Regions from separate parts of the Homo sapiens genome. Here region 1 is linked to region 2. The links come from fine-mapping of genetic effects on gene expression. A gene starts in region 2. The other region holds a variant in brackets. All regions are shown on one strand. Distances are from middle to middle. Region 1 overlaps LOC102723944 (a long non-coding RNA gene). Region 2 holds the start of FOXC1 (forkhead box C1).

Evidence for each region. PIP is the estimated chance that this variant, and not a neighbour inherited with it, causes the effect. A credible set is the group of variants that fine-mapping cannot tell apart.
Region 1: its variant is the best candidate, but not a certain one, in a credible set for the expression of FOXC1 in blood mononuclear cells (TOPMed, PIP 0.80).

The regions. Positions count from the first base shown.
Region 1 is chr6:1,545,280-1,548,176 of GRCh38, forward strand. The region is part of intron 2 of LOC102723944 (a long non-coding RNA gene); the gene reads right to left. Among named protein-coding and RNA genes, the nearest start is that of FOXCUT, 59 kb to the right of the region's middle. The variant T/G (reference allele first, on the strand shown) is at 1,707.
Region 2 is chr6:1,608,706-1,611,602 of GRCh38, forward strand. FOXC1 (forkhead box C1) reads left to right here and starts at 1,210. Exons shown (of 1, transcript NM_001453.3): 1 at 1,210-2,897. The coding sequence starts at 1,741. RefSeq lists a silencer at 1,018-1,637 and an enhancer at 1,968-2,067.

The sequences.
Region 1 (2,897 bases), 63 kb before region 2:
AGGGTCAGATCTTAAGACCTTAAGCACATAATACAATGGTCATGAAGAAAACTCTATTTTTAGAGCATGCCATTTCACTAAGCTAGATGGTTCTGGAGAATGTTAGACCTGGAGGGAACCATTTCCTCCCTTATCTCTTTTAACAGCCCCCAGATAGCTGGCTGATAGATATTATTATCATCAGTTACAGATGGCAAAACCGATACTTAGAGGATTAACAAGAGTGGATCAAATGCATTAGTCACAATAACCTGGGTTACCTATGTTGACAAACAATCCTAAAATCCCAGTGCCTCAACATACACGTGTGCTCTTGCTCACATGGTATCCAACATGAGTTGCACAAAATTCTGCTCTACAGCCCTGTTTGGGACCTAGGATGGAGGCTCTTTCATCTTACAGCCACAGCATCAAAGCACACGGCCTTCTCATCTGGGAGGCTGGCGAACACGTGTCTCCTCCGTCTCACGGTGAGAGAAAAGGAGGCGACCAGCGATCAAAGTGCTTCACCCACACAGAGCACAAGTCATCTCCACTCACTGCCTGTTGGGCAGAGTTGGCCGCGTGACTGTCCCCGAGCAGTGGCTGGGAAGTACACTTCTCTTTGTGGGCAGGGCAGGAGAGAGGCTGGCGACGTCCACCAAGCCAGGGCAGGCAGCAGCAGAGCTGGGTCCAGAGCCCAAGCATATTAGTCTGTTCTCACACTGTTATAAAGAAATACCTGAGACTAGGCAATTTATAAAGAAAAGGGATTTAATTGGCTCACAGTTCTGCAGACTGTACAGGAAGCATGGTGCCAGCATCTGCTTGGCTTCTGGAGAGTCCTCAGGAAGCCTACAGACATGGTGGAAGGCAAAGGGCAAGCAGACACCTCACATGGCCAGAGCAGGAGGAAGAAGGAGGGGGAAATGCCATACACTGTTAAACAACCAGACCTCATGAGAACTCACTCACTATACAGTACCAAATGCTAAACCATGAGAAACCAGCCCTGTGATCCAATCACCACCCACCAGGCCCCACCTCCAATATTGGGGATTACAATTGAGCATGAGATTTGGGTGGGGACATAGATCCAAACCATATCACCAAGTCCTCTGGATTTCCTTCCAATGTTCCTATTCTGTGGCCAGAGTAAATGGCTCAAGTGAAAATTCAACTAGGCTCTAATCCAAGGACCTTGGGTTGGTCACTTACCTACCTGAGACAACGTTTACTCACTTATAAATAGGAATAATAAAAGCTACCCCAAGGCCTATTGTAAGGATTACATGAGATAATGAATATTAAGCACTTACTATAGTATCTTGCACATAATCGGCCCTCATTAAATTCTTGTTGCTGTTGAGATTGTAGCTGTAAAGCCACCGTGGCCTTTGACGTCATGAACAGTGTCGGCTAGGTGATCGAAACATCTGCCTCTTCTCTGCAGATGTCAGACGTTGTCAAAGTCACCCTCCAATGACCCAACTTTACTTCTGGCACCATCCTGGGACTGACAATTTGTCACGCAGACACAAAGAAAAACCTTCTCATGGACCCTCCAAGGAGTCTAGGTTCTTATTATGAACCCTCGTTTTATCTGTTAATTCAGTACATATTTATGAAGCACCTCTTCTGCATTTATTCCCTATGCTGGGAATAAAATTTTAGAAAAAACAAACATAACTCATGGCATTTATGGTCTTTGTTTTTAATTTTTTATC[T/G]TATTTTATTTTTAATTAATTAATTTTTGTTTTTTTAGAGACCAAGTCTCACTCTGTGGCCCAGGCTAGAGTATAGTGGTGCAAGCATAGCTCAAGGTAGCCTCAACCTCCTGGACTGGGAGCGATCCTCCCGCATCAGCCTCCCAAGTAGCCAGGACTACAGGCGTGCACCACCAAGCCCGGCTCATTTTTTTTTTTTTTTTTTCGAGATGGAATTTCACTCTTGTTGCCCAGGCTGGAGTGCAATGGCGTGATCTCGGCTCACTGCAACCTCCACCTCCCAGGTTCAAGCAATTCTCCTGCCTCAGCTTCCCGAATAGCTGGGATTACAGGCGTGCACCACCACACCCAGCTAATTTTGTATTTTTAGCAGAGACGGGGTTTCACATGTTGGTCAGGTTGCTCTCGAACTCCTGATTTAAAAAATTAAAAAAAAAATTTTGGGTAGATGGGTCTTGCTTGTTGCCCAGGCTGGTCTCAAACTCCTGGGCTCAAGTAATCTGCCCACCTCAGCCTCCCAAAGTGTTGGGATTAGTGAGCCACTGTGCCTGGCCCACTTTAGAGTCTTTGAAGAAACACAAAGTTACCTTGCAGTGTCTTTGGAAATAAGTAGGCATAGAACTCACCCTTTGCCAGTGAAGTGGACTGGCAAACACTGCTGTCACATTTTGTACCCACGCAGAGCACCGCTTCAGGCACACTTGGTCCAGGCACACTTGGTCCACGTGATCTTTGTAGGTGAACCCTGCACGCTGAGTCCTGTGGTGGCCCCTGGCCCCTGCCACCCTCCCGGGATTGCACGCTTTCACAGCCACAGCAAGCTCAGCCAGCGTTCACTCTTCTTCTAGCCCATCCTACTTACCACAGTCACTTAACTCCGAAAAATCCTGGCACCTTCTCACTGCCTGCCAAGTTGTACTCCACTGGCACGTGGATGGTGTGACTGCCTTTACACGTGACTGGGAATCTAAACCCCACCCTGCTCAGCGCCATGGCGGGGTGTCTGATGCAGCAGCCGCAGCAACAGCTTCCCAAGTTGTCAGAGAAGAGCCTTAAGCTTCCTTGCTACATGGGACTCCAGGAGTCCCCTGGGAAGTTCAGGCTAGAGCCTGTTTGTTCACCTTCCCCATGATTCCATAAACCATTTAATATCCTGAAATAAATCCCTTTCTGCTCTGCTCTGTAACTGAA
Region 2 (2,897 bases):
AATCTCAGGCGTGTGCACAACGAGCGGGGGCCCTTCCGTGCGTGTCCCCCCAGAATCCTTGAACCGCCCTCTAGGTGCGACCCTGGACGTTCCCCCAGACACACCCGTTGTCTCTGCGAGCCGGCAGCCCCGCGCATGTGGAGATGGAGACTGGCCTGGGGAAGCGTTAAGCTCTTAGACATATTTATTTGCTTCTTGTCATCACACCTGCTAATGTCACCGAGCCCGCAGCCTGACCCCTCATCTGAGCCGAAACGGGCCTGACGGGATCAGAGGGGGCGGCGGCGCGGCGAGCCGGTGGGACCCTCGCGGGCGGGCAGGGGAGCGCGGGGCAGCAGCCGGGCTCCGGCAGCCCTCGCCGCCCGCACCCTCAGGCCGCCAAGGGCCGGCCCCCCGGGGAGGGGGGCGAGAAGCAGGGCGGCCCGCAGCGGGGCGGGCTCATCCTTCGCGGGTGAACGGCCGTCGGAAACTCCCAGCAGGGCCCCGCACCCCTTGCCTTCATTTCGGCTGGGGAGGGGTCATGGAGGGGGGCCAGATGGGCGACGAACCTTCTTCCCCACCGCGAGCAGGGCCTGGCTGTGACCGAGCCCTCAAAATCATGTCCTTTGTAGCCGAGTTCAGGACAGGAGAACCTCCAAGTGGAGAAAAGCCGGAGACGTCAGTGACCCGAGTGAGACTGGCGTTGGAGAAGGGAGGGAAGGGGCTGCGGGAGGGGAGAGGCGGCGGGGAGGAGAGGCTGGGGCAACCCCAGCGCTGGCGTCGGCGGGGCTGGCGAAGGAATGAGAGCGAGCCAGCACGAGGCGGGGCGGAGACGCCAGGGCCACTCGGGAGCCGTGGGCGAAGGAAGGGTCTGCACGGGGTCCCGGGAGGACCCAGGAAGTCTGCGCGAACGGCGGGCGTGGGTCCGGAGGGCCCGGGGTGGGAGGTCTGCCGGGCGCCGGCGGCAGGCAGGTGGACTGCGGGGGGCGAACCGACGGCGGGCCGGGCGCCGGCGCGGGCGCAGGGCCGGGGCCCGGGCCAGGGCGGCCGGCGCGCGTGTGGTCAGCCCCGCGGTCCTCCGGCCTCCGGGAGCGGGCCGGCAGGGCTCGGCCTCCGGCTCATTCGGAGGCGGTTCTCACCTCCCATTGGCTGCCGCCGCTGGCGGGGCGGGGCTCCGCTGCCCGGAAAAAAGTGTAACTGCGTAAAAAAGTCCTCGCCTGGGTGACGGATGCTCAAAAGTTCAGAAGTTTTCCCAATGCTTCCTTAAGCGGCTGGCGCGCGAGAGACCGAGAAAAGGTGACGCGGGGCCCGGGCAGGCGGCCGGCGCGCGGCCCCCCCCCCCCCCGCCCTGGTTATTTGGCCGCCTTCGCCGGCAGCTCAGGGCAGAGTCTCCTGGAAGGCGCAGGCAGTGTGGCGAGAAGGGCGCCTGCTTGTTCTTTCTTTTTGTCTGCTTTCCCCCGTTTGCGCCTGGAAGCTGCGCCGCGAGTTCCTGCAAGGCGGTCTGCCGCGGCCGGGCCCGGCCTTCTCCCCTCGCAGCGACCCCGCCTCGCGGCCGCGCGGGCCCCGAGGTAGCCCGAGGCGCCGGAGGAGCCAGCCCCAGCGAGCGCCGGGAGAGGCGGCAGCGCAGCCGGACGCACAGCGCAGCGGGCCGGCACCAGCTCGGCCGGGCCCGGACTCGGACTCGGCGGCCGGCGCGGCGCGGCCCGGCCCGAGCGAGGGTGGGGGGCGGCGGGCGGCGCGGGGCGGCGGCGAGCGGGGGCCATGCAGGCGCGCTACTCCGTGTCCAGCCCCAACTCCCTGGGAGTGGTGCCCTACCTCGGCGGCGAGCAGAGCTACTACCGCGCGGCGGCCGCGGCGGCCGGGGGCGGCTACACCGCCATGCCGGCCCCCATGAGCGTGTACTCGCACCCTGCGCACGCCGAGCAGTACCCGGGCGGCATGGCCCGCGCCTACGGGCCCTACACGCCGCAGCCGCAGCCCAAGGACATGGTGAAGCCGCCCTATAGCTACATCGCGCTCATCACCATGGCCATCCAGAACGCCCCGGACAAGAAGATCACCCTGAACGGCATCTACCAGTTCATCATGGACCGCTTCCCCTTCTACCGGGACAACAAGCAGGGCTGGCAGAACAGCATCCGCCACAACCTCTCGCTCAACGAGTGCTTCGTCAAGGTGCCGCGCGACGACAAGAAGCCGGGCAAGGGCAGCTACTGGACGCTGGACCCGGACTCCTACAACATGTTCGAGAACGGCAGCTTCCTGCGGCGGCGGCGGCGCTTCAAGAAGAAGGACGCGGTGAAGGACAAGGAGGAGAAGGACAGGCTGCACCTCAAGGAGCCGCCCCCGCCCGGCCGCCAGCCCCCGCCCGCGCCGCCGGAGCAGGCCGACGGCAACGCGCCCGGTCCGCAGCCGCCGCCCGTGCGCATCCAGGACATCAAGACCGAGAACGGTACGTGCCCCTCGCCGCCCCAGCCCCTGTCCCCGGCCGCCGCCCTGGGCAGCGGCAGCGCCGCCGCGGTGCCCAAGATCGAGAGCCCCGACAGCAGCAGCAGCAGCCTGTCCAGCGGGAGCAGCCCCCCGGGCAGCCTGCCGTCGGCGCGGCCGCTCAGCCTGGACGGTGCGGATTCCGCGCCGCCGCCGCCCGCGCCCTCCGCCCCGCCGCCGCACCATAGCCAGGGCTTCAGCGTGGACAACATCATGACGTCGCTGCGGGGGTCGCCGCAGAGCGCGGCCGCGGAGCTCAGCTCCGGCCTTCTGGCCTCGGCGGCCGCGTCCTCGCGCGCGGGGATCGCACCCCCGCTGGCGCTCGGCGCCTACTCGCCCGGCCAGAGCTCCCTCTACAGCTCCCCCTGCAGCCAGACCTCCAGCGCGGGCAGCTCGGGCGGCGGCGGCGGCGGCGCGGGGGCCGCGGGGGG